2 separate regions of the Homo sapiens genome follow, and region 1 is linked to region 2. A link means that fine-mapping ties the variant in region 2 to the expression of a gene that starts in the linked region. Tissue or cell type: lung. Region 2 holds a variant in brackets; the other region holds the start of a gene. All regions are shown on one strand. Distances are from middle to middle.

The links. PIP is the estimated chance that this variant, and not a neighbour inherited with it, causes the effect.
Region 1: it holds the start of BAHCC1, and the variant in region 2 is fine-mapped to the expression of BAHCC1 in lung (TOPMed, PIP 0.97).

What each region holds. Positions count from the first base shown.
Region 1 is chr17:81,392,839-81,397,977 of GRCh38, reverse strand. BAHCC1 (BAH domain and coiled-coil containing 1) reads right to left here and starts at 2,521. Exons shown (of 28, transcript NM_001377448.1): 1 at 2,343-2,521. RefSeq lists enhancers at 566-1,174, 1,175-1,783, 3,867-4,424 and a silencer at 3,809-4,078.
Region 2 is chr17:81,457,004-81,462,142 of GRCh38, reverse strand. BAHCC1 (BAH domain and coiled-coil containing 1) reads right to left here. Exons shown (of 28, transcript NM_001377448.1): 17 at 4,551-4,733; 18 at 3,677-3,978; 19 at 3,418-3,522; 20 at 3,174-3,330; 21 at 2,975-3,089; 22 at 2,815-2,890; 23 at 2,539-2,647; 24 at 1,747-1,866; 25 at 1,437-1,613; 26 at 97-1,277. Among named protein-coding and RNA genes, the nearest start is that of MIR3186, 8.4 kb to the right of the region's middle. RefSeq lists an enhancer at 4,372-5,139. The variant T/C (reference allele first, on the strand shown) is at 2,753.

The DNA of each region.
Region 1 (5,139 bases), 64 kb after region 2:
AGACTATTTTGTGTTTGATTTAATCTATAACCGAAAACATAATGTATTAAGTGAATACATATTTGCTCAGCTGATAAGCTTTTTTAATATTTATTCGGAGAGCTTTTGCATTGTAAATAAATGGGTCTACACAAAGAGTTCTCTTTGTCTGGCAACTACATACAAAGGCGTTTGGGGCTCCCTTCCCTCTGGGGATCGCCAGCTCTCTCCCCGGGTCTAACAAATAGCTCGGCTCCCAAGCCCCGATCCCGGCCTGCAAAGCGAGCGCCCGGCCGCCAGGGCCCGGAGAGTGCTCTGGCGAGGGGGCTGCGAGCGCAGGGGTCAGGGGAGGGGCTGCCCGGGCTGGACTAGGGACGTGGGGGCCCCCAGCCCCGGCCGGCGCCTCCCGAGCCCCGGAGGGCGCCGGGCGGGACAAAGGGAAAGAAGGAAAGGGAGGGAGGTCAGAAACCTGCAGCTTCAAAGGCGCCGAAGGCCGGAGAGGGGCCGGGGGCTGCGCACGCGGGGGTGCCAGGCTTCCTGGCGGCCTCCAGGGAGTCGTGTGTGCTGTGCTTTTGTTTTGTGGTTGTTTTTTTTTTTTTTTTTCTCTCCAATAAGAAATTTCAAAGTTGAGAAAGCGCGAGCTGCCGGCGATTCTCGGGACGCGGGCTCGGCTACGAAGCAACAATTTTAATCTCCCACCCCCTGCGGGCGGATCGCAGGCCCGATTGTTCCTTTCTCACCAGCCTGCTCGACTTTTTAAGCAAACAGGAGGTGGATTACTGTCGCCTGCCTGCGCCGCCACGGCTCTGACCGGATTGGAGAGAGCTTTTCTTTGTGTTCTCTCCTCCCGGGGAGAGGCCGCGCCGCGCCTCCGCGTCTGCCCGCGCCGGGCTTCGGGGGCCTGGGGAGCCTGAGGCGGCCAGGAAGTGGGGCGAGGAAGGGCGGCCACACGGCCCGAGCTGGGAGTCCCACAGTCCCGCAGCGGCGACGCCGCCACCCGCCGAGTGCCGAGGCCCGGGGCCCACTCCCAGCCCAGCTCCAGGAGAGGCCGCGCCGGAGGACCGCGAGGACGGCGCCGCAGCGCCAGGTCGGGCTGAGGTAAGGGAGGAAATGGAGCGAAAAGTGGCGGCGGGCAGAGGGCCCCGGGCGGGCGGAGAATCGCTGACGAGGGCATTTCGGAAGGAACTGAACCTAGGAGCACAGGGCTCCCTCCCGGGAAGGCAGGGCGTGACCCTGGAGCCGCCGGTCCCTCTTGCCGCGGCCCCAGGCGTGGCTGGCGCGCTCCAGGATCTGGAGCTTCTACAAGTTTGCTTTGTTTCCTGCTTTTGCATCTAAAAACCCGCTCTCTCCTCGCCCGCCTGCCGGAGACCAGGACTCTGGCCCGTCTGCCTCCCTCCGGCGTCGTCTCCGGGAGCGCGGGCGCGGTGGGGCCTGCAGGCCGGGCTGGGACCAGGCGCGCCTTGGGGCGCGAGTGGCTCGGCCGTCGCCGCAGAACCCGCTCCCTGCGAAACAGCCGCACCCGCTCCCTGGGAGAGTCATGAGAACTGGGGTCGCGCCTGACCCCCGCGCCCGAAGAAAACCAGCCCGCGGACCCCGCCACACGGGCCGTGACCCGAGCCCCGCGCGCCGTCCCGAACGCGCGCGGTGAAAACGCCCCGCTGCGCCGGCCTTGCTCGGTCCCCCTCCTCCACCCCCACTTCTCCGGAAAAAAAAAATTCTGAATTGGGAACGAAGACCCGAAAAACTCGCCATGACCATTCCCCTCCCCGGCCCCTAGCTTCGGCCCGGAAGGCCCCTCAGGGCAGCGGCCGTGGGTACCACGACCCGGCCAGTTCCCCTCGCCGCGGACCGACCGGGCAGGGCCAACCCAGGACTGTTCCGGGGAGGGGAGCAGGGTAGGGGAGCGAATGTTGGGGTTCGTTCGTGGGTCACCCAGAACTGGGCGCACGCTGGCGGCGCCCGGACTTCGCCTACTGTCCGCCCGGTGCCACCCGCGCGGCTCGCGCCAGACGCAGCCTGGCGGTCCCTGTCCTGTCTTCGAGTATTTGTTTTTAATGCTGGGTGTCGATCGAGACAACAAGCGCTCAGAGCAAAGCAAGGATGCATTACGGGGGTAATTTTAAACCGATCGATAAGATTTTTCAGAGAAAAAAAAATCGCTCATAGTCCATATTTTTTAAGAAAAAAAAAAGCCTCAACATTTTAACGGATTTTGTTAAAAGGGAAGATATATACTTCTTAACATCACAATCCTGAATTTCTTTTGCTAAAAAAAATGTAAAACCCCAAAGCCAGAATAAAAAATAAAATAATAATAAAAATACAAAAACAAAAAAAAAATGAAAGCAATTTCAGTTACTTACTGGAGGCTGTTTCCTGGATACAACTGAATGCAATACAATTAAATCAGTAAATGTGACTTTGTTTTGTATTCCTATTGGTATTTTCAATGTGCTGACTGTTGCACTGTAAATGCACCGCTTCCACAACAACGACTCTAGCGAGCCCATCCAGAGCGGCTCTCAAACCTGCAGCCTGGCGCGGCGAGCCACGGGCCCTGCATACTAATAAGCTCGTGCCACTCAGCCCGGAACAGCCAGCGCGCTGATTGGCCGCGCAGCCCTCCACGGCCGGGAGCTCGTGCCACTCATTCGGCGTAAACAGGCCTCCCAATAGGCTGGCGCCGGGCCAGGGAACTGCCAATCAGGAAGCAGCGGGGCTACTACCAAGCCCGATGGCGCCTAATTCAAGCCCGGCGACTGCGCAGCTCCTCTGCGCAGATCATTGCTGCTGAATGGGAATGTGGTGGCGCAGGGCGGGAGAGGGAGCTGGAGCGAGCGAGTGCGCGTGTCCCGGCGGAGGGGGAGGCGTAGACACAGACACAGACACACACACACACATATATGTTTAATCCAGCAGGTCTAACGTTTGGCTTCTGCCGCACAGAAGGCCAAGGGAAGAAACACCACCACCCCTTAAAAGTAGCTGCTTTTTCTCCCTGGAATCTGTCTGGCAGGTGGCAGGTAGGCCAGACCTCCAAGCCCAGAGGCCTCCCCAGGTTGCCTGGCCCATCTACCGCTCTGAAGCTGCTGCCTGCCCGGACCCGAGCTCGCGGATGCACGCACGCACGCCCGCTGCTTGGGCAGCAAAAGCTTTGAATAGCCCGTCCGGCTCTCTCCTCCCCATGACCTGGGGATCAGACCCTGGGAAGTGAGTTCTGAGTCTCCAGCCGTCTACATTACTGGCTCTCAATTTTATCTCCCTCTGCCACACTTTGCAACAGAGCAGCTACTAAAATGAAAATCAGGGATTTATTGAGAAGACAAGGATTGCCCTTTCTTCATCTACACCTAGATTTAGAAAATATTTTCAGTTTGGTAATGGGGGAAGCGGGTATGGTGTGGTAAACCATGTATAGTATTTCTCAATGCTGCTCCCTGTCTGCCTATCTGCTAAATCCTCACTCCAACTAAAGCAAGCCACTGAACAATTTTTATCGTAATCAGATGCAAACCACTTCTAAAATATTCCGCAAACAAATATTTCTGTTAGAATTTGGTTTCCCACCCAAATGCTATTTATTCTCAGGGAGTCGAGGTGATGTCTTAGTGGCGATGGATACATTTATTTTTGCTCCTCTTTCTCCATGTGAATCTCTGCCTCCCCCTCTGGGGGAAAAAAGGATATTTAAACTAGGAGCCAACTGACAGATTCACACGCATTCGAAATTCTCCACCGTCTCATTCCGGCAGGGACACGAAAGAGTTAAACTCAAAGCCTGTTGTCTCTCTGTTTCCCCGCCCCCACTCCCGCTCCCGCGGGACCGCTGGGATTGGTTGGCACTCCGCCAGTGGACTGTCCATCACCGAGTGTAAACAAGGCGCTGATTGGCTGTTGTCCAGTCCGCACTGGGCCTCCTGAAAAAAGCAATTACTGGCTCCGCGGTTTCAAGGCGGCCCAAGGCCGCTTGATGAAAGGAGATAAGCTGGGGACCGTTTCCAGGATCCCCGCGGGCCGACCGGGGCAGCCCGGGAGCCGAGGTGCGGCGGAGAGCCCGCGGATCAAAGGAATCTGGAGAGAAAGGGGAAGCGGGCGGCCGGCCCCGGCCGGCCTTCCCCCCCGCAGGCCACGCCGACCTGGGGTGGGGGGCTGCGGGCCGCGGGCGGGGACTCCGGGATTTCCCGCCTGCCTGAGTCGGGGCCTACGCCGGCGCCCGCTTCGGGCGGCTCGGCCCGGAGGGGAGCTCCGGAGAGCCCGGGGCTCGCAGGTAAGCACCGGCGCTCCGCGGGCCGGGCCGGGGACGCAGGACAAGGCGCGGGGCCCACCCCGGCTGGCTCGGGAGTGGCGGTCGCGCGGGCCCGGCTCCCGTCTCCGGCGTCTCCCGGCTCCGGCGGCCGGGACCCCCCGCGGCCGAGCCCCTGGCCAGGCCCCAGGCCGGCGCCTTCGGAAGCGACGTCTGGCGGGCCGCGGGGCACGAGGGGGAGAGCCGGGAAGCGTAAATCCCCGAAGCGCGCGGAGATCCGATTAGCGCGCGGCTATTCATTAGGCTGGGGGCGATTGAATTAGGTCCCTGGGCGCGGTCGCCGGCTGGGGGTGTGTGGCGCCGACCCCCGGGCTCTTGCCGTGGCCTCGGGAGGCTGGAGCAGCGAGCAGCGGCCCCAGCGAGTGTGTCGGGGAAGCGGGTGCCTCCGGGTCCCGGCCCCGCGGGTGCAGGCGGAGGCTGCCCGCTTCCCGCGTACACCGAGGACGGCCGGCCCGGCTCCGGAGAAATGGCGCTTGAGAAAGGAGGGGAGGGGAAGGTTCCCGGACCCTGGGCAGGGACCCGTCGCCGGGGACCCGCGGAGCCCTCCGGGGATGGAGGAGGCGCGAGCTGGAAGCGGCGCGCGAGCCCGAGCGCGGGGCTAACACCGTGGGGCCCAGTCTCTCCTGGCTCGGGTAAGTGGACGCGCCCCGAGGCCCCGGGTCCACGCAGGGCGCCCCTCGCAGACGGCGCATTTCCTACTCTCCTAAGGAACCGAGTTCCCATCACTGCCTCCGATGAGCCTGTTTCCGGATCAGGAACCTTTTTCAAGTTAATTTTTAAAGCCTCATTTGAATTTTTTAATATAGGAAAATACGTATACGAGAAAAATCTTGGATGCAACAAAAAGAACACCGTGG
Region 2 (5,139 bases):
AAGATGAAAAAGGAGAGGGAAGGGCAGCAGGGGCGCATGAGCCCGCCCCGGTTTCCTTGGGAACCAGGAGCTCCTCCCGCCTCCCGCTGGACCTACCTGTGTGGGATTCCCCGACCACTTCCAGAGCTGCCGGGCGGGCAGGAAGGCTGAGATCTTTGGCCGGTTTTCCACGGAGGGCGGCCGCTGCCTCCGGGAGAGCTCTTTGGCTTTGGAGAAGCTCAGGGCCTCTTTGCGCTTGAGCTTGGATTTGCTGCTGCTGCTGGGGCCTGAGCCCGCACCGGTGCCAGCCACCGTGGCCCTGGACAGGAAGCAGCGCTGGGCATGCGCGTGAGGGCCGCTGCCCTTGGAGCGCAGGGCCTCGGGCTGGGCCAGGAGGGTGGGCACGGGGTGGGTGAGGCAGGTCTGCAGCAGCAGAGCCGGGTCCTCGTCGTCTGAGCTGTAGGACGAGTCCTCGTTGTCGGAGGAGCAGAGGCTGGAGGTGGACACGGAGCCTGAGGAGGAGGAGGTGGACGAGCCAGAGGAGGAAGAGGACACGGACAGGCGGGCGAGGAAGCGGGAGGGCACGCCGGCCGCCAGCCCCGGCCCGTCCTCGTCCTCGTCCGAGAAGGAGCTGTGGCAGTCGCTGTCGTAGGGCAGCGGGAACTCTGCCTGGCCCGCGTACTTGCGCAGCGCCAGCCCCATGGGCAGCGGGGGGATGGGTGCCCGCCCCTTCTTGTCCTTGCCCACAAGGGCCGGGTGCACATAGCTGGGGCTGGGCAGGGGCCGCCCGAGCTTGGGGCTGAAGTCCTTGTCCCCCATGAGCAACGCCTTGCAGGTCTTGTTCTTGGGGGAGGTCACACCCTCGTGGTCCAGCTTGACCAGGAACTCACCGCCCGCCCGCCGCCGCCCACCCTTCTCGGCCTCCACCCTCTCGGCCTTCTTAGCCCGCAGCAGCTTGTGGGCTCCCCTGGGGAGGCCCGGCCCGGTCCCCCCGACGAAGGGCGCGTAGGAGCTGGCCAGGCTGCTGAAGGAGTCGGCGCGGAAGCCGTTGCCAAATATGGGTGTGGCCACGCTGTGCACGGGGAACAGGGCCTCGCGGGCCCGCAGCTTCTTGCTGCTGCCGTTGAGCTGGAAGAGGTTCTGCAGCACCCCCGGCCCCTTGCTGGCCGCTGCCACCGCCTTCCGCTTGGTCTGCGCCACCGCGGACCAGCTCAGCAAGGGGCTGCCACGGCGGCCCAGGAAGTGGTCGGAGGCCCCCGTGGGGGATTTGGCACCTGAGGTTAGGAGTTCGGCTTTACCTGAGGGCAAAAGCCCAGCAGAGTCAGCCCCAGCTGGGCCCACAAAGCTGCCTCCACCTGCCCCTCCCCGGACCCTGCCTACCCCACGGGCCTCCTGGTTCCCCCAGCCCCCAGAGGGTGCCTTCCCCGATCCGGATTCTGGGAAGTCCGGTAAAATACCAGCTTTGTCTTTGCTAATGGATTTTTTCCCAGGTGTCTTCAAAGCTTCGGGGCCGTCCTGTGCTTTGGGGGACAGGCTGGGGGTGGCGGCTTCACTAGGCGGGGGTGCCTCACTGGATACCTTCTTGGTCCTCCGGCAGCTGCTAGACACTAGCAGGGCTGGAGAGGGCTCTGTGCCTGTGGATAGCATGGGCCAAGGGCTTCAGTGCCATGGCTGTGGGGTGACTGCCACCCCAACCCTTCCTTGGGAGCCCGTCTGGACACAGTGGAGCCCAGGCAGGGCCCTGCCCCGTGCAGCTCCCAGGCTCACACTGGATCTTGAAGTCAGGGGGCAGCAGCCTGACGTTGGAGACGGCGATGTGGCCTGTATCCCCATCGTCAAATTCCACCACTACTGAGTCCAGGTCCTCATCTTCGTCACCGGAGGCCCCTGTGGACGGCACACCTGAGCTTGCAGCTGGAACCCCCAGTAGGCGCCCGAAACAGGGAGGCGGGGCTGCCAAAGCCGGTGGGGAGGGTGAGGGGAGGGCTCTGGGGTTCTGCTCCCTGACCACACAGACAGTGGAGCCGCCCTGCAGCCCAGGAGCGGGGGCCTCCTCTCCACCTCCTGCAGTGCCTCCCATGTGATGCCACCGTCACCCCACCCAGCCCAGAACCAGACCTCCCCACACGTGCTGACGCCCACGTGCCCACCTCCCAGCCGAGTCCCGCCTGGAGGCGCCTCCCGCCCACCTGGCCACTTGCCTGTGGGACCCTTGAGCCTTTCGCCCTAGGGACCTACATGCCCCTGCCTGTAGTCAGGAGGTTTTGCCCAGGGGAGCTGGTGCCCCCTGACGTACTCTGTGACCCCCAGCAGCAGTGCTCAGGGCCCCTTCCTGCTGGGCCCTCTCTGCTTGGCTGGAGGCCGGAGCCCCCACCCTCCCTCCCCACACACCCTGTGCTTTTTCATGGCGCCTGGGGAGCTCATTTTATTGTCGTACTCTGTCTAAGCAGAGAGCTGGTTCTGCCCTCGCCAGCCTCGGAAGCCAGGCTGTTGGGGGCAGATATGAGCCTGTGGGTCTCAGAGGGGCCTGCCCCAGCCCCCGCTTTGGGTGCAACTTACCCCGGACCACGTTGCCCGGGTACAGACATCGAGACTTCTGACTCCAGTAGGCGCAGACCCGCGTGCCGGGCGGGAGGTACCGGCTGGACTGTGGCCGCACATCGAGAACCTGCAGGAACGCGGGCGACGACCCATGAGCAGGTGGGGCCTGGCCCAGGGCTGCCTGAGAGTCTGGTCCCTGGGCCTGGGAGTGGCTGCGGCCCAGGCCAAGGCC[T/C]TCCTTTGTCCTGGGACAAGCCAGCCAGGCCCCTCCCCGGGGCGGGCCGGCCCGGTCCTCACCGCTTCCTGCAGCAGCTGCTCCAGTGAGTAGATCCTCTGCCGGTTGCCCCTCTCGCCCTCGATGACGATGCTATAGCTGGGGGCATTGGGGAATGTGAGGTGCCACGGGTCTCGGTTGCCCTCCAGGCCCCTGCCCTGCCCCACCATGCCCAGGCCTCACATGTCGGGTGGCTGCAGGGTCCTGACGCTGCCCGCGTACAGCAGGCTATCCTCCTTGGGGATGAGCACGGGCAGCCCGTCCCGCAGGTCCTCCTTGTGGATGGCACACGAGCGCGCTGTGGGCACAAGGTGTCAGCGGCCGGCACGGCCTACCCACCACCCCTCCCCAGGCGGCTGGCACCCTTCCTGGCCCTGCTCACCTAGGGCGGCGCTCTGCTCTGCGCTCAGAGGGCCGCTGTCCTCCTCCTCTTCCTCCTCGTCCTCCTCCTCTTCCGAGAAGCTGCTGTTGTCGTCGAACTCAAAGTCTTCCTCCACGGCGAAGCTTTCCAGCAGGCGGCTCACGGCCCGGCCCTTGCCCTGGGGGCCAGAGGAGTCAGGCTTGGGTGGGGTGCAGGCGGGGTGCAGGTGGGTGCACAGTGGGCTCCCAGAGTGGGGGGCTGCTACCTGCTTGCCGGCCTTGTGCTTCACCTTGCTCAGCTTCCGGCCCTTCCCCAGGATGGCCTTGGCGTTGCGTGTGGCCAGCGTGATGGACAGGGCCCCGTTCTTCCGCTGCGCGTGGGCAGGCAGAGAAGGGGCTGAGTCAAGGGTGGGACAGCCTCAGGTTGACCCAGAGCTCAGGGGCCAGCGTGCGGGGGAGGGCGGGGAAGGCCTTTCCTCACAGGCACCCACCCTCTCCGCCCAGCACCCCAGAGCCCAGCCTCACCCGCAGCACTGGCTGCAGCACTGTGCCCTTGCGCGTGGCCCTCTTGAGGCGCTCACTGGCCAGCTGGCTGCCCTCCTCACGGCAGGCGAAGGCCCGAGAGGGGTTGAAGAGGGCGTCCCTGCTGGGGGTGGCCCCCGGCTCTGCCCGCAGGCTGCCCTTGGCCTTGCCCTTGGCTTTCTTCTTGCCCAGCGCACCTGGGGGCCTCTGCCCTGGGGCCCGCTCCAGGGTGGTGCCCACCTTGGCCTTCACCGACCGCCTCTTGATCTTGACCTCACTCTCAGGGCTGGACAGGCGGCAGGCCCCTGTGGGAAGGAGAGGAGGCCGTCACAGGGGTCCCCATCCTAGAGACCCGGCTGGTTGGGCTGACTGTGCCGGTCCTCCCTCCTGGTTACCTAGCAACCCCTGCCCGCCCCCGGGTTACCCAGCAACCTCTGCCCTCCCCCTCCTGGTTACCCAGCAACCCCTGCCCTCCCTCCTGGTTACCCAGCAACCCCTGCCCTCCCCCCGGTTACCCAGCAACCCCTGCCCTCCCTCCTGGTTACCCAGCAACCCCTGCCCTCCCTCCTGGTTACCTAGCAACCCCTGCCCTCCCCCCGGTTACCCAACAACCCCTGCCCTCCCCCTCCTGGTTACCCAGCAACCCCTGCCCTCCCCCCGGTTACCCAGCAACCCCTGCCCTCCCCCTCCTGATTACCCAGCAACCCCTGCCCTTCCTCCTGGTTACCCAGCAACCCCTGCCCTCCCTCCTGGTTACCCAGCAAACCCTGCCCTCCCTCCTGGTTACCCAGCAACCCCTGCCCTCCCTCCTGGTTATCTAGCAATCCCTGCCCTCCCTCCTGGTTACCTAGCAACCCCTGTCCTCCCTCCTGGTTACCTAGCAACCCCTGCCTCTCCTTCTTCTTCTTGGCCTTCTGGTTGGCCTCCATCTTGACCACAGAGGAGGGTGAGGGCCCCAGCACGGCCACACTGGCCCCGGTGTGCAGCAGCAGCCCTGCTTCCCTGGGTGGTGCCTCTGTCCCCAGGAGACCCTCGCAGTCCTCACTGTCATAGCCACTGCCTGGGAGAGAGGCAGAGGGGTCCTGATGACTTGATGGTAAGCTGTGCCATTGAGAGGTGGGGGAGGTGACCCTCTGGGCATGCGGTTATGGCGGGGCTGTGAGTGGAGCTGGTCACCGTCACCCTCTGGGCCGCTCTGTGGGGCTGCTTTGGGGGCAGGTGCCTGAGGTCCTGGCCTCCAGCCTGAAGGGATTTGTATGGGTGTGGGGAGGGGTGTTTTTTTCTTATACCCTGGGCAATAGGGCACCCACCAGGCAGGGCTGGGGCCCCCTCCCCAGAAAGTCCCTTCCCCTTTTTCTGCTGTCCTCCGCCCAGATGGCCCTCTGCCCCTCCCCCAGCCCCAAGCGGCCCTCCCTTTGTTCTTTCTCAGGCATCTGAGACCTTGGGGGAAGGGGCTGGCAGAAGAA